6 separate regions of the Homo sapiens genome follow, and regions 2, 3, 4, 5 and 6 are each reported to be linked to region 1. Evidence: microRNA targets listed by miRTarBase, many of them from high-throughput screens and not tested one by one. Region 1 holds a microRNA gene; each other region holds the end of a gene's coding sequence. Distances are from middle to middle.
Evidence for each region. The annotated mature microRNA hsa-miR-3918 reads ACAGGGCCGCAGAUGGAGACU and lies in region 1 at 1,349-1,369, opposite strand. An mRNA with a match to its seed (bases 2 to 7 or 8) in the 3' UTR can be bound and repressed. Matches are read on the target gene's strand: a 7mer-m8 pairs with bases 2 to 8, a 7mer-A1 pairs with bases 2 to 7 and ends in A, and an 8mer does both.

Region 2: miRTarBase lists TMEM134 as a target of hsa-miR-3918. Seed matches in the 3' UTR shown: 7mer-m8 at 411-417, 7mer-A1 at 643-649, 7mer-m8 at 792-798, 7mer-m8 at 870-876, 7mer-A1 at 891-897, 7mer-m8 at 1,336-1,342 and 1 more.
Region 3: miRTarBase lists ABT1 as a target of hsa-miR-3918. Seed matches in the 3' UTR shown: 7mer-m8 at 758-764.
Region 4: miRTarBase lists LAPTM5 as a target of hsa-miR-3918. Seed matches in the 3' UTR shown: 7mer-A1 at 1,768-1,774.
Region 5: the mRNA of SEC16A is a reported target of hsa-miR-3918. Seed matches in the 3' UTR shown: 7mer-A1 at 672-678.
Region 6: the mRNA of SAMD4B is a reported target of hsa-miR-3918. Seed matches in the 3' UTR shown: 7mer-m8 at 3,110-3,116 and 7mer-m8 at 2,167-2,173.

The regions. Positions count from the first base shown.
Region 1 is chr6:158,763,367-158,767,451 of GRCh38, forward strand. MIR3918 (microRNA 3918) reads right to left here and starts at 1,387; the gene lies at 1,295-1,387. SYTL3 (synaptotagmin like 3) reads left to right here. Exons shown (of 18, transcript NM_001242394.2): 17 at 1-143; 18 at 1,129-1,505. The coding sequence ends at 1,238. It overlaps EZR (ezrin), which reads right to left. Exons shown (of 14, transcript NM_001111077.2): 13 at 3,895-4,085; 14 at 2,382-3,712. The coding sequence ends at 3,548.
Region 2 is chr11:67,460,791-67,464,875 of GRCh38, reverse strand. It overlaps TMEM134 (transmembrane protein 134), which reads left to right. Exons shown (of 7, transcript NM_025124.4): 6 at 20-73; 7 at 180-3,166. The coding sequence ends at 262. CABP4 (calcium binding protein 4) reads right to left here. Exons shown (of 6, transcript NM_145200.5): 6 at 3,124-4,085. Among named protein-coding and RNA genes, the nearest start is that of TMEM134, 6.4 kb to the left of the region's middle.
Region 3 is chr6:26,597,916-26,602,000 of GRCh38, forward strand. It overlaps ABT1 (activator of basal transcription 1), which reads left to right. Exons shown (of 3, transcript NM_013375.4): 2 at 1-195; 3 at 350-2,824. The coding sequence ends at 730. Among named protein-coding and RNA genes, the nearest start is that of ABT1, 3.0 kb to the left of the region's middle.
Region 4 is chr1:30,730,490-30,734,574 of GRCh38, reverse strand. It overlaps LAPTM5 (lysosomal protein transmembrane 5), which reads left to right. Exons shown (of 8, transcript NM_006762.3): 8 at 658-2,106. The coding sequence ends at 747. Among named protein-coding and RNA genes, the nearest start is that of MIR4420, 6.7 kb to the left of the region's middle. RefSeq lists enhancers at 750-1,251, 1,292-1,797, 1,798-2,303, 3,973-4,082.
Region 5 is chr9:136,438,312-136,442,396 of GRCh38, reverse strand. It overlaps SEC16A (SEC16 homolog A, endoplasmic reticulum export factor), which reads left to right. Exons shown (of 32, transcript NM_014866.2): 32 at 574-2,292. The coding sequence ends at 642. INPP5E (inositol polyphosphate-5-phosphatase E) reads left to right here and starts at 2,552. Exons shown (of 10, transcript NM_019892.6): 1 at 2,552-3,789. The coding sequence starts at 2,978. RefSeq lists silencers at 2,394-2,593, 2,644-2,823, 2,884-3,373 and enhancers at 2,446-3,079, 3,080-3,714, 3,664-3,773, 3,715-4,085.
Region 6 is chr19:39,383,141-39,387,225 of GRCh38, reverse strand. SAMD4B (sterile alpha motif domain containing 4B) reads right to left here. Exons shown (of 14, transcript NM_001384574.2): 13 at 3,935-4,018; 14 at 1,526-3,727. The coding sequence ends at 3,699. PAF1 (PAF1 component of Paf1/RNA polymerase II complex) reads left to right here. Exons shown (of 14, transcript NM_019088.4): 12 at 427-532; 13 at 654-744; 14 at 823-1,597. The coding sequence ends at 1,235. Among named protein-coding and RNA genes, the nearest start is that of PAF1, 5.9 kb to the left of the region's middle.

The DNA.
Region 1 (4,085 bases):
TTGCCCCCAGTGGAAACACTCATTTGTCTTCAGTGGCGTAACCCCAGCTCAGCTGAGGCAGTCAAGCTTGGAGTTAACTGTCTGGGATCAGGCCCTCTTTGGAATGAACGACCGCTTGCTTGGAGGAACCAGACTTGGTTCAAGTAAGTCTGAGACATTGAGCCCAAACGTTTATACTTTGTGATTATCCTAATGGGTACCGTGCAAAGAAAATGCTTCCACCAGGGCAGTGACTTAACTGGTTTTGAAATTGCCTAGCCTGCCTTAATTGGAAATGCCTAAGTCTAGTTTTTACTCTACAGCTGAGCCATAATACAGCCAAGTATTTTGACAATTTAAATCAGATTTAGATCTGCTAAAGAAACAAAAATTATAGGCCTCCAAACGGGCTAGGTACAGTATTTGCTTTTGTTTCTGGCGTCAATCATAAAAGGATTATTTTCTTAAATGAAAATATCTTCTTAAACAAATGGCAATTCAGAAAGTACTTCATCAAAAGTGGTCAGAACAGCAGTGCTGTCCAGAGCCGCTCGGCAGGGCACCGCCGGCATGGTAGGTGGACAGCCCTCTGCTGTGAGGTTCTGTGCCTGGCACTGCTTCTGGCTGCCAGCAGTGTCCCTGACATGATGACAACCAAAAACACCTGCACACATCTCCAAGGACCTCCAACTGAGAACCAGTGACTGAAGAGAAATAAGCTTCACTGCTCCATTGCTTTTCAAAGATATTTTGTCCAAAGCATACTGTCTTCCTCTAAGAATCCCTTCCCATGGGCAAGCCCAGCCCCCAGTCTGAGACGGCCCCACCCAGCTAGCCATGCTGGTGTGCAACTATCCACTCCCTTGGTGAAGACCCAGCCCACCAAACCAGAGTCCTCGCCTCACTTTCAAACTACAGAACTCCAGGCTGTTAGAGCCTCGCAGAGCAGAGGATGCCTGCGTGAATCCCAGTCTCAACACCAGCTTTGTTGGGGTGGGAGTGGTGGTGGCGGCGTCTGTCATCAGTGGTTGGCCTTTTAATGTGGACTTGAGGTGAAAAACTTCTGGCTGGTCATCATTTTTAAAGGGATGAGAGGGGATGAAGTGGTGCCCTCCCCGACCATGGCTAAATTGTCTTCCTCTCTTACAGAGGGAGACACAGCTGTTGGCGGGGATGCATGCTCACTATCGAAGCTCCAGTGGCAGAAAGTCCTTTCCAGCCCCAATCTATGGACAGACATGACTCTTGTCCTGCACTGACATGAAGGCCTCAAGGTTCCAGGTTGCAGCAGGCGTGAGGCACTGTGCGTCTGCAGAGGGGCTACGAACCAGGTGCAGGGTCCCAGCTGGAGACCCCTTTGACCTTGAGCAGTCTCCATCTGCGGCCCTGTCCCATGGCTTAACCGCCTATTGGTATCTGTGTATATTTACGTTAAACACAATTATGTTACCTAAGCCTCTGGTGGGTTATCTCCTCTTTGAGATGTAGAAAATGGCCAGATTTTAATAAACGTTGTTACCCATGTCCTCCAGTGCTTATCAAATGAGGTAAAAGGCCGGCTGGTGGGCATGGTAACTCCCCCCTGTAATCCCAGCAACTTTGGGAGGCTGCAGTGGATGGCTTGAGCTCAGAAGTGTGAGATCAGCCCAGGCAACATAGATACCCTGTCTACAAAAAAACCAAAAAATTATCCAGGTGTGGTGGTACACACCTGTAGTCCCAGTTACTCAGGAGGCTGAACCGGGAGGATTGAGCCCAGGAGGTTGAGGCTGCAGTAAGCCCCGATCATGCAACTGTGCTCCAGCCTGGGCCAAAGTAAGACCCTGTCTCAAGGCGGGGGGGGGAGTCACAGCTTCGCTGTGAGAAGCACTTTATTTTTTGAGACGGAGTCTCCCCGTCACCAGGCTGGAGTGCAGTGGCACGATCTTGGCTTGCTGCAAGCTCCGCCTCCCGGGTTCTAGCAATTCTCCTGCCCCAGCCTCCCAAGTAGCTGGGATTATAGGTATGCACCACCACACCAGGCTAATTTTCGTATTTTTAGTAAAGATGGGGTTTCACCATGTTGGCCAGGATGGTCTCGATCTCCTGACCTCGTGATCCGACCACCTCGGCCTCCCAAAGTGCTGGGATTACAGGTGTGAGCCACTGTGCCCGGCTATGAGGAGCATTTTAGAGGAGCCTGATGAGTGTTGGAGCAGTCTTTCTCTCCTGTGGAAACCATCTCGAGGAGGTTAGGTGACCCATGGAGCACCATGTCTTGGGTTGGTCAGCTCCAACTTACCAGTGTACCCCCAGGGACACCACGGCCCCTCACGAAACCTGGCCAGAGGACAGCATAGAGCCCAGACGAGTCGGCGGTAGCCCTCCCACCCCACACACAAGCACACACCCGTGCTGCTTCGTGCCTTTGCAAAGCTTTTATTTCATGTCTGCGGCATGGAATCCACCTGCACATGGCATCTTAGCTGTGAAGGAGAAAGCAGTGCACGAGAAGGAATGAGTGGGCGGAACCAACGGCCTCCACAAGCTGCCTTCCAGCAGCCTGCCAAGGCCATGGCAGAGAGAGACTGCAAACAAACAAACACAAGCAAACAGAGTCTCTTCACAGCTGGAGTCTGAAAGCTCATAGTGGCATGTGTGAATCTGACAAAATTAAAAGTGTGCATAGTCCATTACATGCATAAAACACTAATAATAATCCTGTTTACACGTGACTGCAGCAGGCAGGTCCAGCTCCACCACTGCCCTCCTGCCACATCACATCAAGTGCCATGGTTTAGAGGGTTTTTCATATGTAATTCTTTTATTCTGTAAAAGGTAACAAAATATACAGAACAAAACTTTCCCTTTTTAAAACTAATGTTACAAATCTGTATTATCACTTGTATATAAATAGTATATAGCTGATCATTAATAAGGTGTATAAGTACAATGTATTCTAAAACTGTTAAGCAAAAAAAAAAAAAACAAAAAAAAAAATCCAAGTGTCCTCCTCCACCACTCACGCTGGTGATCACTGTGCTCTCTGCCAGCTGCGTGGAGTGACGGGAGGAGGGAATCACTGTGTGTGCGAGAGTGCTTCAGACTCAATTTCCAAAATAATTTTCACCCCTCTAAGCATGTAAATATACAAAGATGGATCCTTCATAGAAATTAAAAAATCAATTTGAGCTCATTTCGAATACAGAACAAGTATGGCACAGATGGAAGTCCTGCCACGTTTCCTTTAATGATGCTGACTCTTGTATCACACAGGCCAGCATGAAGTTTCTTACTCAGACTTTACAGGCATTTTCCGTAATTCAATCAGTCCTGCTCCCAGCACAACACAGGAGGTGATTCGAGAATAATCGCGAGAATCAGGCCTGCTTGGCACTATTACAACTGGGGAAAACAAACCAGGGCGCCTCCCTGGTTCCCAGCCCAGAATGTTTCTGTTGGGTAACTGCTTTCTAAAGGAACTGGGATCTGAGGGAGTTCCTAGACTTGGAGCACTAAAGACACAAGCGTGGCGGGGCTGGCAGCGCCCGCTATGAGCACCCCTCTGCCCTTGGTCCTGGCCTGGCTGTTACAGGGCCTCGAACTCGTCGATGCGCTGCTTGGTGTTGCCCTGCCGGATCTGCCGCAGCGTCTTGTACTTGTCCCGGCCTTGCCTCATGTTCTCGTTGTGGATGATGTCATTGTGGGTCCTCTTATTCTCATCTCGGGCCTGGGACAGCTCGCTGCTCAGCGTCTGTAACATTAAGCAGCATTGGTCTAGTCCCTTCCTCCCCATATGGCCCGGCCCGTCCCCTAGGAAAACAGGAAGGGCAAGAGGGGTGCTGGGTGGGGCTGGCTCACATCACTGCCCTCCCCAAGCCTGTCTGCTCCAAAAGCGAGGCAGGCTCCCTGGAGACAGAGCCCCTTGGGCCTCACCAGCAGCTGCCGCTGCACACGCTCGTTCTTCTCTGCCTCAGTGATGCGCTTCTCCTCATTGCGGTCATCCCGGATGCCCTCACTAGACAGCTCCGCGCTGTAGCCCGTGGGCTCTGCGCCCTCATCCTGCAAGCTCTCCTGGACATGGTAGCTCACCGGCTCGTACACGGGGGGTGGTGGGGGCGGGGGTG
Region 2 (4,085 bases), not on the chromosome of region 1:
GCTCTGGTCCCTCCCGCAGGTGTCTCCAGCGCCATCTTCTTCGTGCCGGGCTTCCTGTTGTTGGTGCCTGGAGGTGCGAGCGGGCACCGGGGCGGAAGGGGCGGGGGCTGTGGGGCGGCACTGGGGGCGGTGTTGCGGGGAGGGGCGGGGCTTCTGCGCTGACAGGCCCCGCCCCGCAGTCTATCACGTGATCTTCATCTACTGCGCGGTCAAGGGCCACCGGGGCTTCCAGTTCTTCTACCTGCCCTACTTCGAGAAGTGATCGCGGCGCAGCGTGGACCCCTTGCGCCCATGGGGGCGCCCCTCTTGCCCTGTTCCGTTCCCCTCATCTCAAGGGAAGAGGCCCTCCAGGACCCTCGAAACCCCAGCCCCTAGGGAGTTTGCTCAGGAAGTTCGGGGCATGCAGGCCTGGCCCTGGGAAAGCCGCCCGTCGCCTGCTCTGTGCCTTAACTTATTCTCGGGCCGTGCGGCTGCTAGGTTGCTGTTATTTTGTGCTAATAAAAGAGTAATTAATTCCACCAGAGGCAATTGCTCTCCTCCTGTCCTGCCACTGCTAGCCCAGCCCACCAGCCTGACCACAGCCCCCCTCCCAAGGACTGACCCTGACGCTGAAGGGCTTCGAGCACCACCGAACGCGTGGCAGCCCTGATGCTGAGGCTTGCCCAAGGGCACGGGGCATGTTAGGGGCAGAGCTGGGCGTAGGACTCCTGCCTTGCCAGCCAGGAGCCGGCCGGAACAGCCTGCCCCACCCCCAGCCCTTGGATGACTCAACCAGCCCGTCTCTGTCTGGTGGCCCTGGCCGAGGGCACGCAGAGATGACGCAGGCCTGGGACCTGGAGGCTGGTATCCTAGTTCCAGCCTGGCTCTGGGGCCCTGGGCTGCCACAGCCAGCCCTGAATGTGGGCCATGTCAAGGCAATGGCCCAGCCCCCTCCACCCACTGCCCTCCTTCCCAGTCCCAGAGGTTGGGAGAACCTGGGGGCAGAGGGCATAGGAAGCCGCGCCTGACAGACACCCTCAGTGGTCAAAGACTTAGAAATGCAGAACGTTAGAAACAAACCATCTCAGAATTTTGGAACATCAGCATTTCAGAATCTTACGAAACAAGAAACAGAATCTTTGAGAAACCTGAAATCTGAGATCATAGTAGCTACCAGTTATCAATTTGTTGAAAGACCCCAGGATGGCCGGGCACGGTGGCTCAAGCCTGTAATCCTAGCACTTTGAGAGGCCAAGGTGGGAGGATCGCTTGAGCCCAGGAGTTCGCGACCAACCTGGACAACATGGCGAGAACCCATCTCTATTTAAAAAAAAAAAAAGAAAAGAAAATATACTAGGCCCTGCGCTAAGCACTGAACACGGGTTATATCTTGTAATCTTCACTACCTCCGTCCCATTTTACAGATAAGGACTGACTCACCCAAGGACAGCCAGCAGGTGGTAGGTAGAATTAGGAACGTAGCCCAGGGCTCTTCCCATGACACTGTCGGGGAGGGAGAAGGAAACCGGCACTGAGCTGGTCTCCCCTACCGGCCAACCAAGAGGCTGGCTGAGTGAGCAAGGGTTGGGAGGCCCTGTTGGTGCACCTGCCCGTACTGTCTATCTCCCCCACCAAAACACGGGTCCCACAAACCACTGTCTGCAGCACCCAACACAGCGGGGCCTTCAGGATTCTGAGTTAGAGGAATGGACACCCAGACTCTTGCTCTCGCTCCCACCTTTCCAGGCCCCGCAGACTTCCCACCCTCATCCCCCATTCAAGGCACTTAGGGGGCACCCATTGGATGCAGGAACTCCTAAACCAGTGGTCCCCCAACTAGCTATGGTAAAGGACCAGTTTTCATTTCTAATCCATCACGGTCCAGTACTTTCATAAGAAGAACTAGCCGGGTGCCGTGCCTCATGCCTGTAATCCCAGCACTTTGAGAGGCCACGGTGGGAGGATCACTTGAGCCCAGGAGTTCGAGACCAACCTGGGAAACATGGGAAAACCCCATCTCTACAAAAAATACAAAAACTTAGCCAGGCATGGTGGGGCGCCTGTAGTCCCACCCACTTGCGAGGCTGGAGTGGGAGGATCACGGAGCCTGGGAGGCTGCAGTGGAGTCATGATTGCACCACTGCACTCCAGCCTGGAAGACAGACTGAGACCTATTTAAAAAATAAATAAATAAATAACATAAAAATTTTAAAAACTAGAAAAATGAAATAAAAAACATACAGAGGCTGGGCGTGGTGGCTCATGCCTGCAATCCCAGCACTTTGGGAGGCCGAGGCAGGTGAATCATGAGGTCAGGAGTTCGAGACCAGCCTGGCCAACAGGGTGAAATCCCATTTCTATTAAAAATACAAAAAAATTACCGGGCATGGTGGTGCGCACCTGTAATCCCAGCTACTCAGGAGGCTGAGGCAGGAGAATCGCTTGAACCCGGGAGGCAGAGGTTGCAGTGAGCCGAGATCACGCCACTACACTCCAGCCTGAGCGACAGAGCGAGACTCTGTCTCCAAAAAAAAAAAAAATACAGAATACAAGTCCACAGTTTATCAGATTAATTAGACATAAAATTACATTTCAATAAATATAATCAGAACAAACATAGGAAAAAGGAAAAATGACAAAAACCATTGAATATGAACAAACAGGCAATTAACACAGAATCGCAGCTAACAACTTTTTACTCCTTGTTTTTTTTTTTTTTGTTTTTTTTTTGAGACGAGTCTCACTGTCTCCCAGGCTGGAGTGCAGTGGCCCGATCTCGGCTCACTGCATCCTCTGCCTCCCGGTTTAAGCGATTCTCATGCCTCAGCCTTCTCAGTAGCTGCGACTACAGGCACATGCCACCATGCCCAGCTAATCTTTGTATTTTTAGTAGAGACAGGGTTTCACTATGTTGGCCAGGCTGGTCTCCAACCCCTGAGCCACCTCGCCCGACTTCATTCTACAGTCTTAACAGAAAGCAATTTCAGAAGTGGTGATTCCCATCATTAGAAGTCTGCGTTAGGAATCAGCAAGGTATAGTCCACAGAGTGGTTTTTATATTTTGTAATGGTTGGAGAAAAGTCAAAGAATAATAAGATTTTATGACATAAAATTATATAAAATTCAAATTTCCATGTCAATAAATGAAGTTTTACTGTTATTTATTAAAATTTCTGATATAGCCACACTCATTTGTTGACTTGACTTTGCACTACAAACTTCAACAGCAGAGTTGCGTGAGCAGCTGCAACAGAGACCAAAGCCTCAAAGCTGAAAATAATTATTCTCCAGCCCTTTACAGAAAGTTTCCCCACCCTTAGTCTACATGAACACTTTGACAGAACACCGTGAATCTGACTTTTCTCTCCAGTTATTTATAAGATTTGCTTTTTATATTCTGTGGTTTCAATGGGATATATCCAGATATATATTTATTTTTATTTACCCTACTCTGACTTCAGTTTGTTCCTTCAATCTGGGGAGTTGAAGTCTGTGGAAGTCTTTATGGAAAATTTTCAGCCATTATCTCTTTGGTTATTGCTTCTTGTTCATTCTCTATGTATGTCCTCCGTCTGAGACTCCCAAGGACTTATCTGTCTTTTTCTTTGAGACAGGGTCTCTTGCTCTGTCACCAAGGCTGGAGTGCAGTGGCACGATCACTGCAGCCTCCAACTCCTGGGCTCAAATGATCCTCTCACCTCAGCCTCCTGAATAGCTGGAACTACAAGCATGAGCCACTACACCCAGCTTATTTTTTTATTATTTTTTTTAAGAGGCAGGGTCTTGCTGTTAGGCTGGTCTCAAACTCCTGGCCTCAAGTGATCCTCCTGCCTTAGCCTCCCAAAATGCTGGGATTACAGGCATAAGCCACCACACCCAGTCTTCCAGTGACCTTTTTTTTTTTTTTTTTCCGAGACGGAGTCTCGCTCTGTAGCCCAGGCTGGAGTGCAGTGGTGCAATCTCGGCTCACTGCAAGCTCCGCCTCCTGGGTTCACGCCATTCTCTTGCCTCAGCCTCCCTAGTAGCTGGGACTACAGGCGCCCGCCACCACGCCCAGCTAATTTTTTTTTGTATTTTTAGTAGAGATGGGGTTTCACTGTGTTAGC
Region 3 (4,085 bases), 130 Mb from region 1:
CGGTTCGTGAGACGCAAGAAGAAGGCAGCAGCAGCTGCCGGAGGAAAAAAGCGGTCCTACACCAAGGACTACACCGAGGGATGGGTGGAGTTCCGTGACAAGCGCATAGCCAAGCGCGTGGCGGCCAGTCTACACAACACGCCTATGGGTGCCCGCAGGCGCAGCCCCTTCCGTTATGATCTTTGGAACCTCAAGGTGAGAAGATAGATCTTTCTGCCACACCTCTCACCCTCCCTTCTCCCCAACTCTGGCCCAAGTATCCCCATGGCCTCTCATTGGCCTTGTCCCCTTGTCTCATCTTTCTCCCTAATCTGCACTATCCTGATCTTTTCTTCTTTTCTGCCCACAGTACTTGCACCGTTTCACCTGGTCCCACCTCAGCGAGCACCTCGCCTTTGAGCGCCAGGTGCGCAGGCAGCGCTTGAGAGCGGAGGTTGCTCAAGCCAAGCGTGAGACCGACTTCTATCTTCAAAGTGTGGAACGGGGACAACGCTTTCTTGCGGCCGATGGGGACCCTGCTCGCCCAGATGGCTCCTGGACATTTGCCCAGCGTCCTACTGAGCAGGAACTGAGGGCCCGTAAAGCAGCACGGCCAGGGGGACGTGAACGGGCTCGCCTGGCAACTGCCCAGGACAAGGCCCGCTCCAACAAAGGGCTCCTGGCCAGGATCTTTGGAGCCCCGCCACCCTCAGAGAGCATGGAGGGACCTTCCCTTGTCAGGGACTCCTGAGGGCCTGGGTGGCCCCTTCCATTTCCTGGCCCTGCTCTGCTTCCTGTCTACCTCATACTAGAATGATCGTGACTACCCGGGCAGACATTTTACTGTGTTTCTCAGACCAAGTGTCTACTGATGGCCCAAACATGGAGTTTTGTGGGCTTCCACTGTCCCCACTCCGAACTCCTGTATGTGCCTGGCTGAGTCACCTAATTCATACTGTCATACTAGCATAATTATGACTATTGCATATGCTTGTTTTGTTTGACTCTTGGCTGCCTACGTCTGTAGGGTCCCCTGAAAATCCCACTTCCTGCCCCCAGAAAGGGCCTTTATTTCCAACTAGGAGGATAATGCCTAGTCCAGGCAATCTTTCTCTGTTTAGCAGTCACAGGTGAGGGTGGTATTAGCATCTTTTTTATGTAGAAAAAATTGAGTTAATGGGGTGGACTGGGTTGGGAAGAAATACATTTCCTAATGTATTTATAGAAAATAAAAATATTTTTATGTGCCTTTTTATTTTTGTTGGTGGGGAGGTCATTGGACAAGTTCCAACTTTCATCTTGTGTTCCCTTCACCTTCATATCCTGATCTTAGAGCCCCCCTCCCCCTGCCACCCACCTTACTGTTTAACCTGGATTTTTTTTTCTATTTAATTTTTGTCTAATATCTTAGCCCAGTTTATCAATCAGTTATCTTAAGTCAGCATTTTCTAAGCCATTGTTTGAGGAAACAGTGACAATAGGTAATAACACATCTTAGTATTAAGAGTTTTACAGGCCACTAGTATAAGATAGGCATCGTGGTAGATGCATATAAAGGGTGGAATGGGAGCCATGGCAGGTCATAGAGTCCTCTCAATGGGAACCTGATTGATGATCACAGTCTTCAGTGGTGAGTCAGTCCTCACCAAGTTTTCCAGATCATTCCTACAAAGTAAACTGGGAGAATAATAAGTCTGAAAGAGTGTGGAGTGCTCCCACAATTACAAAGAATGCTTCCTGGGTGGAGTGTTGAGTTGGAACCATTGTAAAGGTGGGCAAAGCCTAGTAGAGAACCAGTGCACCTCAGGTGCACTTACATATGGTGGGGCTGAGGCAAAGCAGCCCTGTAGGCTTCAAAGAATCAGTGTAAGCCACTAAAAGGAACTGAAAACCTAGGTGTCACAATAAACAGTCTACACAGTCTCACGTAGACCAAAATTCTGATCATTTTCCAGGCTGTTGCATGAAGTGATAGAGTATGATTATAATTTCTGTTTGCTTGTGCTGTTTGTTTTTGTTTTTCATCTGTCAATGTGATGATCTGTGTTTTATAGGGTAGAGTGGATTTGTCTACTTTGGCTGTAAAATACCCTAATCACATTATGATCTTGACAGGTGCACTTTACTGGGGAGAATAAAAAGGACCATACGGTAAAGCTGGTATAACATTTCTCACAACCCACATACCTCTTATACTTGGCACACAAACTACGTTTCCATTTAGAAACTTTCGTCTTGTTTCTGTTTTTAATTCTTGTGGGTTTGTTTCATGTGAATTGTTTCCTCAGATCATTGATGTCTTAAAGTGAAACAGAAAAATCCAGAATCAGAATTTGACAGGCTGGCATATTCATTTATTCAGAATTCCAAGTGCCCATTGCTACTTCTGCTAGATAAAGAGATACCAAGGTGAAGAAGAAACTTTCCCTCTAGTTGCTAACAGCTTAGAAAGTACAGTAGACATACTGGGGTTTTATTTAAGACTTTCTTGAATGAAGAAATAAATTGCATTCCCACGGTGGACAGCGTTAGATAACAGTATGTTCAAGGGCTGGTATTTCAGGGTCCATCTCCAAAACAGTTCTGTACAAAGAGCTCACACCTGCGGCCAGGCAAGCTAAGTAAGTCACAGGTGGAGTGAGGAATGAGAATAAATGGGTGGAAGAAAATATCCTAGGAACTTTCATCTTGACTTTAAGCCCATTGAGTGTAGGAAAATAATTTTTTACATCCACAATTTTGTTTCTATTTAAACAGCACTTGTTTTTTTATATGAAGTAACTCATTTAATCCACAACTATATAATATTGTTATCCCCCCATTAAAACTGAGCTCAGAGAGATGACTCAATTTGCCTCTTAATATTTTATCCTTTGTTCCTCACCTTTTCCCCAGCTTTTCCCAGTGTGCATATGGTGAATGCTTATTACAGGAAATTCATGAGAAATGCACATGTTATAGACTAGAGAATGAAGTGTACCTGCCAATATGAGTGGATTTATTTTATCTAGCACCAAGAGTAGCAAACTGAGTAATAATTCTCAGTCATGATCCTGTGGTTGTAGTGTATACTCTGATTCAACTTAGTTTCACTCCTGACTGAGAAGCTGGGACTCTGCATTTGATGGCAATGGAGTGGGCTGATTTCTTTCCAAATAAGTTGAGGTGGGACTCCTGGTAGAGTAAGAGGGCTTTAATAGGGTATGTCTGGGTGCCTAAAAGCTTTCTCTCTCTTTTTTTTTTTCAGAGACAGGGTCTCTCTATGTTGCTCAGGCTGGCCTTGAGCTCCTGGGCTCAAGCGATCCTCCCGCCTCAGCCTCCCAAAGTACTGGGATTACAGGCATGAGCCACCACGCCCTGCCCTAAAAATGTTCAAAAGTCGTATTTACAGCTACTCTCAAATTCCTTTTTTTTTGTGATTCCTTATAAAACCTTTCTCCCTGCATTTATCTTGTTATATTACAGTAGAATTATGAGGGGAAAATCCTTTGGTGGAAGTCTAGGGACATGCTCAGTTCCCAGGAGGCTTAATGTGAATTTTAGTGAATTGCTTAAGATCCAGTATTAGATCTGCTGGTCCCTGCCCACCCCCCTTTTATTTTTTGAGACAGGGTCTCACTTTGTCACCCAGGCTGGAGTGTAGTGGCATGATCCTGTCTCACTGTAGCCTCCATCTTCTGGGCTCAAGCAATCCTCCCACCTCAGTTTCCTGAGTAGCTGGGACCGCAGGCATGCACCATCACGCCCAGCTAATTTTTAAAATATTTTTTGTAGAGATGAGGTCTCACTGTGTTGCCCAGGCTGCTCTCGAACTCCCGTTCTCAAGCGATCCACCCACCTTGGCCTCCCAAAGTGCTGAGATTACAGCCACGGTGCTCGGCTCCCATCTTGAAATCAATACCTGACAGAATATTAAAGAAAATGAAAATTGGCCGGGTGTGGTGGCTGACGCCTGTAATCCCAACACTTTGGGAGGCCAAGCCTAGTGGATCACTTGAGGTCAGGAGTTCGAGACCAGCCTGGGCAACACGGTGAAACCCTGTCTCTACTAAAAATACAAAAATTAGCCGGGTGTAATGGCGGGCCCCTGTAATGCCAGCTACGCA
Region 4 (4,085 bases), not on the chromosome of region 1:
CTGACTTCAGGAATTTACTAGCTCACAGAACTTAGCAGCCAAATGTAGGTCTGGCTTGGGCCTGGCTGAGTCCTGACATCAGGATATGATCTCGTCCTCTCCAACTCTTGACTCTACTTTCCTTGATGTTGGCTTCATTTTCCGGAAGCCCATCCCTTGTGGTGGCAAAAAGGCTGCCAAAACCCCTAGGCAGATATCCCACCCTCTCAGAAATCCCAACAGAAAAAGAAGGTCCCAGGAGTATGTCTGATTGGACCAACTTGGGCCACGTGCCTATCCCCAAACCAAGGACTATAGCCAGGGGGATGGAATTCTACTTTGAGTGGCCAAGTCCAGCCACCTCGCTGGATCTGAGGGATGGGACCAGTTCTTCTGAAGGTATATGGACTGAGAATGTTTTCCCAAGGAAAATGGTGCACTGTTTTCAAAATAAGGGGGACTTGATGCTGAATAGGCAAAGGCAAATATGTCCACTACAGGGCTGGGAACTGCACCTATCTCATGCAGGCAATGTCTAGCACATAGCAAATATCCAAGACCTGCCAGTCATTATCATCATCATTTTGCCAGAGGTGGGGGTTTGGGTCCCATGACCCCAGGTTGGAATTGCAGGTCATTCTTGACCATACTCAGCCCTCATCTCTCTGTCTCTCCCAGGTGGTCCTGCCGTCCTACGAGGAAGCCCTGTCTTTGCCATCGAAGACCCCAGAGGGGGGCCCAGCACCACCCCCATACTCAGAGGTGTGACCCTCGCCAGGCCCCAGCCCCAGTGCTGGGAGGGGTGGAGCTGCCTCATAATCTGCTTTTTTGCTTTGGTGGCCCCTGTGGCCTGGGTGGGCCCTCCCGCCCCTCCCTGGCAGGACAATCTGCTTGTGTCTCCCTCGCTGGCCTGCTCCTCCTGCAGGGCCTGTGAGCTGCTCACAACTGGGTCAACGCTTTAGGCTGAGTCACTCCTCGGGTCTCTCCATAATTCAGCCCAACAATGCTTGGTTTATTTCAATCAGCTCTGACACTTGTTTAGACGATTGGCCATTCTAAAGTTGGTGAGTTTGTCAAGCAACTATCGACTTGATCAGTTCAGCCAAGCAACTGACAAATCAAAAACCCACTTGTCAGTTCAGTAAAATAATTTGGTCAAACAACAGTCTATTGCATTGATTTATAAATAGTTGTCAGTTCACATAGCAATTTAATCAAGTAATCATTAATTAGTTACCCCCTATATATAAATATATGTAATCAATTTCTTCAAATAGCTTGCTTACATGATAATCAATTAGCCAACCATGAGTCATTTAGAATAGTGATAAATAGAATACACAGAATAGTGATGAAATTCAATTTAAAAAATCACGTTAGCCTCCAAACCATTTAATTCAAATGAACCCATCAACTGGATGCCAACTCTGGCGAATGTAGGACCTCTGAGTGGCTGTATAATTGTTAATTCAAATGAAATTCATTTAAACAGTTGACAAACTGTCATTCAACAATTAGCTCCAGGAAATAACAGTTATTTCATCATAAAACAGTCCCTTCAAACACACAATTGTTCTGCTGAAGAGTTGTCATCAACAATCCAATGCTCACCTATTCAGTTGCTCTGTGGTCAGTGTGGCTGCATAACAGTGGATTCCATGAAAGGAGTCATTTTAGTGATGAGCTGCCAGTCCATTCCCAGGCCAGGCTGTCGCTGGCCATCCATTCAGTCGATTCAGTCATAGGCGAATCTGTTCTGCCCGAGGCTTGTGGTCAAGCAAAAATTCAGCCCTGAAATCAGGCACATCTGTTCGTTGGACTAAACCCACAGGTTAGTTCAGTCAAAGCAGGCAACCCCCTTGTGGGCACTGACCCTGCCACTGGGGTCATGGCGGTTGTGGCAGCTGGGGAGGTTTGGCCCCAACAGCCCTCCTGTGCCTGCTTCCCTGTGTGTCGGGGTCCTCCAGGGAGCTGACCCAGAGGTGGAGGCCACGGAGGCAGGGTCTCTGGGGACTGTCGGGGGGTACAGAGGGAGAAGGCTCTGCAAGAGCTCCCTGGCAATACCCCCTTGTGTAATTGCTTTGTGTGCGACAGGGAGGAAGTTTCAATAAAGCAGCAACAAGCTTCTGTCTGGCTGATGTGTTTCTGGAAATACAGTGTAGGGAGGGTGGAGACCAGCCTTCTACCTCCATCACCCCAGGACTCACCCACACCCCCTACACCCACACCCCTCCACACACTCACACCCACCCCCACACACCCACAAATACACCCAAACACCCACACTCCCCCCACATACCCACACACTCACACCCTCCCCACACCCCTCCACACACTCACTCCCACCGCCTACACACCCACACACCCCCCATATACCCACACACTCACACCCCCCACACCCCTCCACACACGCCCACCCCCACACACCCATGTAAACACTCACACATACCTAGTTGCTCCATCCAGAAACTCCTCCCATGGGCCATGCTGAGCGAGGGGTGGTCCTGACCCAATGCTGTCTGATCATGAACCACAGCCCAAGATGATGCACCCTGATGTCTCCCTAATCAGGCGTGCACTCCACTCCCCTGGGGCTGGGTCCTGCTCTGGACACTGGGGAAGACCTCAACAGATGAGACTCGCCTCCAGTTCCCCCCAGTCTGCGGTAGGAGGGACAGATCTGCAAAAGGGCTGCCACGATAGGGAAAGCCTAGGGGACCTCAGACGTGGCCTGAGGGCCAGAGAAAGCCTCTTGGAGGCTGTCACCAAGTGGAGTCTGAAGGATGAGAAGGCAGCAGTAAGCAGAATGGGAAGGGTGCTCTAGGTCTAGGTAGCAGGACACGCAAAGACTCTATGGCATTGGGGAGAGGAGCTGGGGCGAGCTGCTCAGCGTGGCTGCAAGTGGGGAGGGGAGGGAGAAGAGGTCGGCCCGCTGTGGGGCTGGGTCAGGAAGAGTGTTTGCACACAGTGGGGCTCTTTAGGTGCAAGCTCACCCTGGCTAAGTTCAGCCAAGAAGGGAATTTACAGGAAGGACATGGTTGCAAGTAACAGAAGCCTTATGAGCCAAGTTTATTATGAGAAACCAGAAGGTGGTTCACGATGTTTCTTGGCTCTCATACAAATAAAAAATCCAGGGATTTTTGGCTTCAGGTATGGCAGGATCCAGGACTACAACTCTTTAATAATGTCTCTCTGTTTCTCCATCTCTTATCTTTTCTCCCCGGTGTGGCTGAGCTGTTGAGGACTTACCTGAAAGTAAAGTTAATAAAGAGACCAGGGCTGTTTGAATTGGGATCTGTCACCAATACCAAAAGAGCCCTCAGAGCCTTGAATGTCACACCGAGGAACATGGACTAATCCTGAGACAGGTGTCTTTGAAGGATTTTGGGCCAAGGAGTTACAAGGTTTGGGTTTTAGGAAGGAAGAGCCCAAATGCAGGGACCCCTACAAAGGCTGGGGAAGTCATCCTATGGGGCGGCAGGGACGGGGATGAGTTTGAGAGGCATTGTCAACCTTCTGGTGGTGTCAGTTTTTTTGTGGAATGGCAGATTTCTTCATGGATGTTATTTGCTCCTTATCAGACCCCCAAGCAGTTGGTGCAGTGTAATTCACAGAAATGGAAAGCGAGCTCCTGTTCACACTTGAGGGCAGAGGCCCAGAGACATCAAGTGACTTTCCTGAGGCCACACAGTGGTCAGAGATGAGACCAAGCACCTTTTTTTTCTACTCCGAGTGGAGGCTTTTAGACGGGCTGGGGCCCAGTCTGTGTCAGTTGTTGCTTCTTGCAAAGACCCATGGGAAGAGGGCCCGCTGAGAAGCCCCGGCAAGTGTGGATTGGGAGCAGAGGTCACGGGAGGAGAGACATTGGCCCAGCCTTGCATCCTATCACAAGGAGATTGAAGGGCCATGGCTGCGTGTGTCACAAGGACCAGGAGGCCCTGAACTTCCCGGCGCGACTCTCCCGTCCTTCCCGCCTTCCCCGACTCCCACCTCTGGCCTGGAGCCGAAGAACAGGCTGAGCTGTGTAGTGGGATTGTGCCCTGTGGCCAGGCAGCTGGGAGGGGGCCACCCGAGGGACAGGAAATAGCTGGGTTTGGGGAAGTCCG
Region 5 (4,085 bases), not on the chromosome of region 1:
CAAACGAGGCCGAGGCTCCCAGGACCACTGCCCCCAAGCTGGCCCCTGGCTGTCACCTGCTTTTCAGCATCCAGACTAGTCGATTTTGGTATTGTCCTGCTCCCTTTACCATGTGGTTAGTGCCTTTACAAAAATTCCTTGGCTTTCCCCTCCATGAGGCTTTGCGAGGGAGCAAGAGTGGATGCCTGCATTGGCCAGCTGTCTGCAACTGAGGTCCCCGCGTCCCATGCAGTAGGCCAGGCCTGGCCACCACTTGTCCCTGGACTCTGGACAGCCAGGCTGGCTCTGCAGAGCAGCTCCAGGTCTCATGGCCCTGATGAAACCACGGCACCTCCTGGCCACCCTCACAGTAAACATTGATGGTTAAGGATACAGTGCTTTCAAGGGAGCCCAGGACTTGGCACTGACTTGTCGGTTTCCAGAGGCTTTTGGAAACAAAAACGAAGCCTTCAGCTTGTCAGCGCCAATGGCCCGTGTGGTTCATTATGTGGACCAGCCCCTGCCACGCTGCAGCCGAGCACTGCTCACCCTGGGGGCAGGCATGCAGAGGTCATGCTGTTGATTTCATTCCAGGCCTGCGCCACCTCCGGGAGCTCAAGGCTAGGGAGGATTGGCCAGAGGAAGCACCTGGTGCTGAACTAGGCTTGCCCTGCTGTGAACTTGCACTTGGAGCCCTGACGCTGCTGTTCTCCCCGAAGAACCCGACCGACCTCCGCGATCTCCGTCCCGCCCCCAGGGAGACACAGCAGTGACTCAGAGCTGGTCGCACACTGTGCCTCCCTCCTCACCGCCCATCGTAATGAATTATTTTGAAAATTAATTCCACCATCCTTTCAGATTCTGGATGGAAAGACTGAATCTTTGACTCAGAATTGTTTGCCGAAAAGAATGATGTGACTTTCTTAGTCATTTAGGATGATTTAAGGATATAGTATTCCTGGTCATTTAAGAATGTTCATTCATTGAAGCCGGAGCTGTCTCTGCCACAGGAGAGCCACATGGTCGGTAGTAACCAGGGCCTCTCCAAGCCCAGCTGTGAGTCACTGCCCAGTGAGTCCCGCGCTTCCTTTAAGGTGCTGGGAGCAAAGAGAGGGTGACTGAGGCAGACCCCAACCCCTGCTCTGCACCATCTGGGCCCTCGCCGTGTTTGAACCTGGCTGAATGAGTGGAGGGCGCTGTGTTCTCAATCAGCGCCTCCGAGGAGCCGTGGGGTTCCTTCGGCATTAGTTCACGGTTTTTGAGAGAGGCCTTAGTTACTGCAGTGAATTTCTTTCCTGTTGCAAAGACGCTTCCAGCCTCACTTTACTTTCTGTGGCCTGATGAGGACCATGGGTGATTTTGTGTACCCAAAGCGCTGGGGACTGCCCACCGTGTGGCCCAGTCACTGGGAAGGAGCCCCAGAGAGCCGGCTGTCTGACATGATGGCTCAGGGTGGTCATCCAGGTTGAAAACTGACCGTGTGATGTTTGATTTGGGCTTCATTTCGTGTGTAGGAGCACGGTTAGACTCACTGTTAAGGAAGCTGGATGCACTTCTCTAAAAGGCTGCACTTTCCGTGAGCACTTTTCGTGGTACAATCCACATGACCCACTTTCTCCCCTGGGGGACGTTGGTTCAGAGGTTGGTAGCACTTGGGGAGAGTATCTTAACACAGTTTCTTGACAGCAGCTCTGGAACTTAGTATTTCTGCCCCGAGTTTTGCCACACTGAGACTTTGAGTAGCTCCTGGTGGACTCAACCCTGTTCAACTCAGAGACGGGCCTCCTCTCACTGATGCAAAGCTTTAAGGCTTCTCTGACTGTTCTGAAACTCTTCGTATTCTTGTCAAGTCTAAAGAGACTGAAGAAAAGATTTAAATACTAATAAAAATCAGTAGATAATTTCTGTAGGTTCTGCTGGAGGAATACAAACTGTTTGGTGTTTTAAATTTAAGTGTAGAAATTGTAGAATGTGGAATTAGCACAGATCCTTCCTGGCTTTCTGTTTCACTTGATCATTTAGCCCAGACCACCCAGGATGTTTTCCAAAATGTTCCACAGGCGTGTCCCGCTGGATCCATTTGTCCTTGTCACTTGGAGAAAGGCCAGTCCCTGTGACGGGGCAGCCCTCTCTGTCCCTCGGTCAGCTCGTGTGAATCCTGGGACCTCTTCCGGTCGGCTCTGCCCGCTGTTCTGGGGTCGACTGCCACGACTTTTGATTCAAGAAGCTTCCTCCAGGCGGGAGCGGCTATTTTTCCTAAATGAGAATTGTTACATTGCAAATTGTTGAATAAAATATTTTGCGCTCCTTCAAGCACCTTCACCTGTGGTTCCCTTTGGTTTGCTGGAAGCGAGTGAGTGCAGGTGTCCGCAGGCCTCGGCGCTGTCCTGGACCGCACCCAGGTCCTCTCCGGGGACCTGCACCTGCCTCGCTGGGACCTGCCGGACTGCGGGGCTGCCGGGTTGGGAGGGGCGTGGGAGACCCGTCCGGGTCCGGTGCGGCGCAGTCCTCCGGCCGCCAGGGGCCGCTGTGGGCGGGGCCGGGGCGCGGGGCGGGGACCGGGCGCGGCCCCGCGGCGGCGGTTGCTGGGTCCCGGCCGGGCTGACTCCGCTTCTGGGCGGCCGGGCCTCCGCGAGTACCGGGTCGACTTCGGAGTCTGCGAGCCCAGCCAGGGGTGCCCGCTTCCCACCCCTCTCCCCGAGCGGCGTCCCCGTCGGGGTCGAACCTCCCCCGCGACAGGCGCCCAGCCGCCTGTTCCCCCAGGCCTTGCCTGCGGACCGCCCTGGGAACGGCGTCTGGGAGCCCCGAGGGGCTGGCGGGACTCGGGGCCCGGGCCATGCGGCAGCCGCCCCCGCCCCTCCGCGACCATCCCCGGCCCAAGCGGGAGCCGCAGCGGCGTTTCTGCTCCTCGCTGCGCCGGCGACCCCGGACCCGGCACCCGTGACCCCTCGCGCTGCCTGCGGCCTCGCGCCGAGGCCTGCCCCGGGAGAGACCGTCCATGCCGTCCAAGGCGGAGAATCTGCGGCCCTCCGAGCCGGCCCCGCAGCCGCCGGAAGGGAGGACGCTCCAAGGACAGCTTCCCGGCGCTCCGCCGGCCCAGCGCGCGGGGTCCCCACCCGATGCTCCGGGCTCCGAGAGCCCCGCGCTTGCCTGCAGCACTCCGGCCACGCCCAGCGGCGAGGACCCGCCAGCCCGAGCAGCACCCATCGCCCCGCGGCCCCCCGCCAGGCCTCGACTGGAGCGAGCCCTGTCCCTGGACGACAAGGGCTGGAGGAGGAGGCGTTTTCGAGGCAGCCAGGAGGACCTGGAAGCCCGGAATGGGACCAGTCCCTCCAGGGGCTCAGTGCAGAGCGAGGGCCCCGGGGCCCCCGCCCACAGCTGCTCCCCGCCCTGCCTGAGCACCTCCTTGCAGGAAATCCCCAAGTCCCGCGGGGTCCTGAGCAGTGAGAGAGGGAGCCCGTCCTCGGGGGGTAACCCTCTCTCTGGGGTGGCCAGCAGCTCCCCGAACCTCCCGCACAGAGACGCCGCCGTGGCGGGGAGCTCGCCCAGGCTGCCCAGCCTGCTGCCCCCGCGCCCACCGCCTGCCCTGAGCCTGGACATCGCCTCCGACTCCCTGAGGACAGCAAACAAGGTCGACTCGGATCTTGCAGACTACAAGCTCCGCGCGCAGCCGCTCCTGGTGCGGGCCCACAGCAGCCTGGGCCCCGGCCGGCCGCGGAGCCCCCTGGCCTGCGACGACTGTTCCCTTCGCTCGGCCAAATCCTCCTTCAGCCTCCTGGCGCCCATCCGCAGCAAGGACGTCCGCAGCAGGTAGGGAGGGCCTGGCGGGTGCAGCGCCCGCGCCGCCTTCGTTGTAGTGTTCAGGCTGCTGGAACCTCGTGAGACCGTTCCCATCAGCAGCGTTTAAGATGCCTAACCGGAAAGAACGAAGCGGGTCTCCCGCAGCCACCCCATCTCCCAGCCCCACCCCACAGCAGCGCCCTTCCCAGAACTTTTCCTGTGCGTTTCAGAACCATTCGTGGGCGTGACGTTGTGTTAAGGTAGACAGGATGGCATCCTGCATACAATTACGTATCTGGCGCTTTTTCTTGTTTAGTCTTGGGAAA
Region 6 (4,085 bases), not on the chromosome of region 1:
TTCAGTACAGTCACATGCTGTACAACCTTGTAGCCTAGGAGCAATAGGCTACACCATTACAGCCTAGGTATGTAGTAGGCTATACTATGTACGTTTGTGTAAGAGTACTGTATGATGTTCACATGATGTATATCTCAGAATGTGTCCCTGTTAAATGGCCCATGCCCGTATTTATGTAAATACACCGTATAACACACACACACAGTGTAGGGCAACCAAACTGGTGCCATGGGAGCCATCCTTCCTTTCCCCTGCCCTCAATACCTTGAGCTTAGCTGCCCTTATTCAATCTGTATTTATTCCCATTTACTCTAAGTATTGATGGGGAACCAAGTCAGACCAGACCCCTCACTGGGGGGCGGGGAAGTGGGAGGTGTGTCTTTAACTGCATCTTCCACTTCTCTCTCCCAAATTCACCCCCTGCAGGGTCCGCCTTAGTAAGCGCCGGGCCAAGGCTGGGGTTCAGTCAGGCACCAACGCCCTGCTTGTGGTCAAACATCGGGACATGAATGAGAAGGAACTGGAAGCTCAGGTAACAAGCACCACTGGCTCAGGGCACCCATGGCAGGGAGGGTGGTGGTTGTAGGTGAGGAGGGGGACAAAAACCCAGCAGAACACCCTCCTTCCCCTCATTCCAATCTTGCTGCTTCCAGGAGGCACGGAAGGCCCAGCTAGAAAACCACGAACCGGAGGAGGAAGAGGAAGAGGAGATGGAGACAGAAGAGAAAGAAGCTGGGGGCTCAGGTAAATCTGGACAGGCCAGACTCTGGGAGCCCTGGGAGGGTGGAAAAGTGGGTTTCATCTCTCTCCACTCCCTTCCAGATGAGGAGCAGGAGAAGGGCAGCAGCAGTGAGAAGGAGGGCAGTGAAGATGAGCACTCGGGCAGCGAGAGTGAACGGGAGGAAGGTGACAGGGACGAGGCCAGTGACAAGAGTGGCAGTGGTGAGGACGAGAGCAGCGAGGATGAGGCCCGGGCTGCCCGTGACAAAGAGGAGATCTTTGGCAGTGATGCTGATTCTGAGGACGATGCCGACTCTGATGATGAGGACAGAGGACAGGCCCAAGGTGGCAGTGACAATGATTCAGACAGCGGCAGCAATGGGGGTGGCCAGCGGAGCCGGAGCCACAGCCGCAGCGCCAGTCCCTTCCCCAGTGGCAGCGAGCACTCGGCCCAGGAGGATGGCAGTGAAGCTGCAGCTTCTGATTCCAGTGAAGCTGATAGTGACAGTGACTGAGTCCCAGGGCATTCAGGGCTGGTTCAGACACCATTATTGTGAGCAGCAAAGCACTTTTCTAGTGGTCTGTTTGTGAGCCTTTCACTTGTTTGTTCCCCACCCCCAAACCTTTGCTGTTAATAAAGTCAACTTCTCTTTACTTCCCCTCCCAGCCCCTATGATGTCATTCAGCCCAGCACATACCTCCCGCAACCCCCAGGTGCTCAAGGATCTTGGCTTGAGGCTTAGAAACACAGGCCAGAGGCAGGGCCAATGGTTTCCCACAAAATGTAGCACAACGAAGGTCAGAATTCGTTTTTTTTGTTTGTTTTTTTTTTTTCCAAAATAAGCCCAGACCATTAAACAAGTGAAACTCCAACAAATAAGTCTTCTCCAACAGCGAGAAAAACTGTACAGTTACTCAAAGCTGATTCTGCCAGTGGGGCCGGGGACAGAAGTGGGTAGGGAGGGTGAAATCATGGAGGAGGGCCTGGGGAGGGGGCTGGAGCGGGAGAGGGTCAGGGTCCTGCCCATCAGAGTGGGGCCGCCTGCGTCCTGCACACTCTGCTGTCAGGTGGGGTGGGGGGCAGCTCTTGCCTCCCTGTGTGTGTGAGACGGTGTCCCTCACCACCTCCCAGTGCCAGGCACAGTCAGCTCACCCTGATGGAGAGTGAACAAGACAGGACAGGCTGGGGAGAGGGGAGGGTCCCATGAGAGGGACACCCTGCTGATTCCAAACGAGGTGGCCCATCCATCCCACTTCCTGCAGCTAGTGGGAGGGGGACTGGAGAAGCCCTGGGAGATTGAGGGGATGAGCAAAGGCACAGAAACATGGAGGGCCGGGGTGGGGGACTTGCATAGGTTGATGAGTGTGCAAGAGGTACATAAATAAACCTGACACCCCACCCAGCCCGGCACTGGGAGAGGAAGTGGGGACCCAGAGCCAGGTTCCCAGGGCCACCCTACCCCCTGGCTTCTTCCCCCTCCCTGGGCTCAGAGCAGAGGGAAGTCCACAGACCAGGAGGGCGGGGGCAAGAAGGTCTGGGGAATGGGGTGATAGTGCAGGGAGGGTGGTGGTTTTAAAATTTTTTTTTTTTTTGTTTTTTTTGTTTTTTTCCCAACATTTTGTATCTTTAATAACATACACAATGGTTACCAGCCATATTCATAACAAAAGTTATTCATAAAATGTATCTAAAAATAACATTTTTTTTCCTTTTCGGTGTGAAAAGCTTGAGAATGTCCCAGTTGGGAAGGTGGGTTGAGGGGGAGGAGGGCGTTGAAGAGGGAGACCCTGGCTTCCCCGCAGTCTGAACCCCCAAATCCCCTCCCTCCACCTGGGCCCCAACACAACCCCTCATTAGGAATAGGGACCAGACAGTCTGTCGGACTCTGGGGCTGGGACGAATCTCTGGGTTATGATATAGTGTTCCACTTAAGTGAGGTCATGACATAATGGGGGAAGGAAAAAGGCTGAAAGAAAAGGGAGGGGCTTAGGGAAAAACCCAAAAACCAAACAATCCCCTTTCCCTTATTCCTGACTCCCAAGTCTCACCAACCAGACCTGGGAGCGGAGAAGGGTGTGTGTTCGTGGGGAAGGGGACGTTAAGGCAACAGACTTCCTGACCTCACTGGCTACCCTGGCTGCCCACCTCCAACCTCTTCATCCGGGTAGCCAGGGCTGGAGGAAAATGGGTTAGAGCTTGAGGGTCTGGAGGAGGGGGCTCTGCCCTCTCCCCTCATAAAGTTCAGGCTCTCCCTGCCACTGTCTTGGCTGAGAGAGACCTGGGGATTCTAAAAATGAGAGGAAATGATCAGAGAAAAACCGTTAAGAACTATATAAATATGTATCTTAAATAGGCCTAAGAAATTAATCATAGAGAACCTCTGGTGAACAGGGCCAGGGGAGGTGAGAGAGAGGAAGGTGGCTCCTGTCCTTGCAGAATGTGGGGAATGGTGAAGGGGAAGCAGGGAGAGGAGAGAGAGCTTCCTCTCCTTGCTCCCCTTCCTTCTCCCCAGCTCCTCTCAATAACATTCTGGAGGGCAGGTTCTCTGCCCTGCGCGTCACCCCAAATGTCAAATGTTTCTGAGCAGGCTCCACAAGGTAGTGGTCAGTTTGTCTCTGGGGAGTCTGCTCCCTTGGGGAGAGGCAGGTGGTCAGCGGTCTGGAGGAGGCAGGGGTGGGATGGGACCAGGTGGGGATGAGGAAGGAAAGGAGAGAGGCAGGCAGTCTGGCCAGTCCCTGCCCCCTTTATCCTGGCTGCCCCCAACTCCCCGGGCCTCAGCAGAGATCCCTCGACGGGCCTGGGAGTGAGCAAGGCATGTGCCAATGTTAAACAAAAGTTAAGAGGGTAAGAGAGTAGAAAAATATTAGAATATATAGCTGAGCCAGCCCACCCTCTCGCTGTCGCGGAGAAGCCCGTTGGGGGTTGGCCCCCGCCCGCCGCCCAGGGAGCCTATGGGTGCGCTGGGCTGTGGGTCCCGTCAGATGGTGGAGGTTTTGTCTGTCCCATCTGTGGTAAGAAAGGGAGGAAGGGAGGAAGATCAGGAGCTGGAGGGAGGCCCAAGAAAAGGCACTCAGGTAGCCTGTCATCCCAGTCAGGCCCTCCCTGGAGTCTGGCCTCCCCTGGGGACCCCTCAGGATGACTCTGAGTTGCTCAGTTCAGAGGCAGAGACGCTGGGTAGGTGGGAGCTGGGTCAGGGAAAGAGGAAATGCTCACCACCCAAGGCGTGTTCTGTCATGCTCAGACACAGAGACTCCAGAGTGGGATTGATCTCCAGGTCAGGCCCAGGAACCGGGCAGTCTGGGTGGGAGAGAGGAGAATGGGGGTGGTAAGGACCAACTGGACTCAGGTGAAGACAGCTGGGATG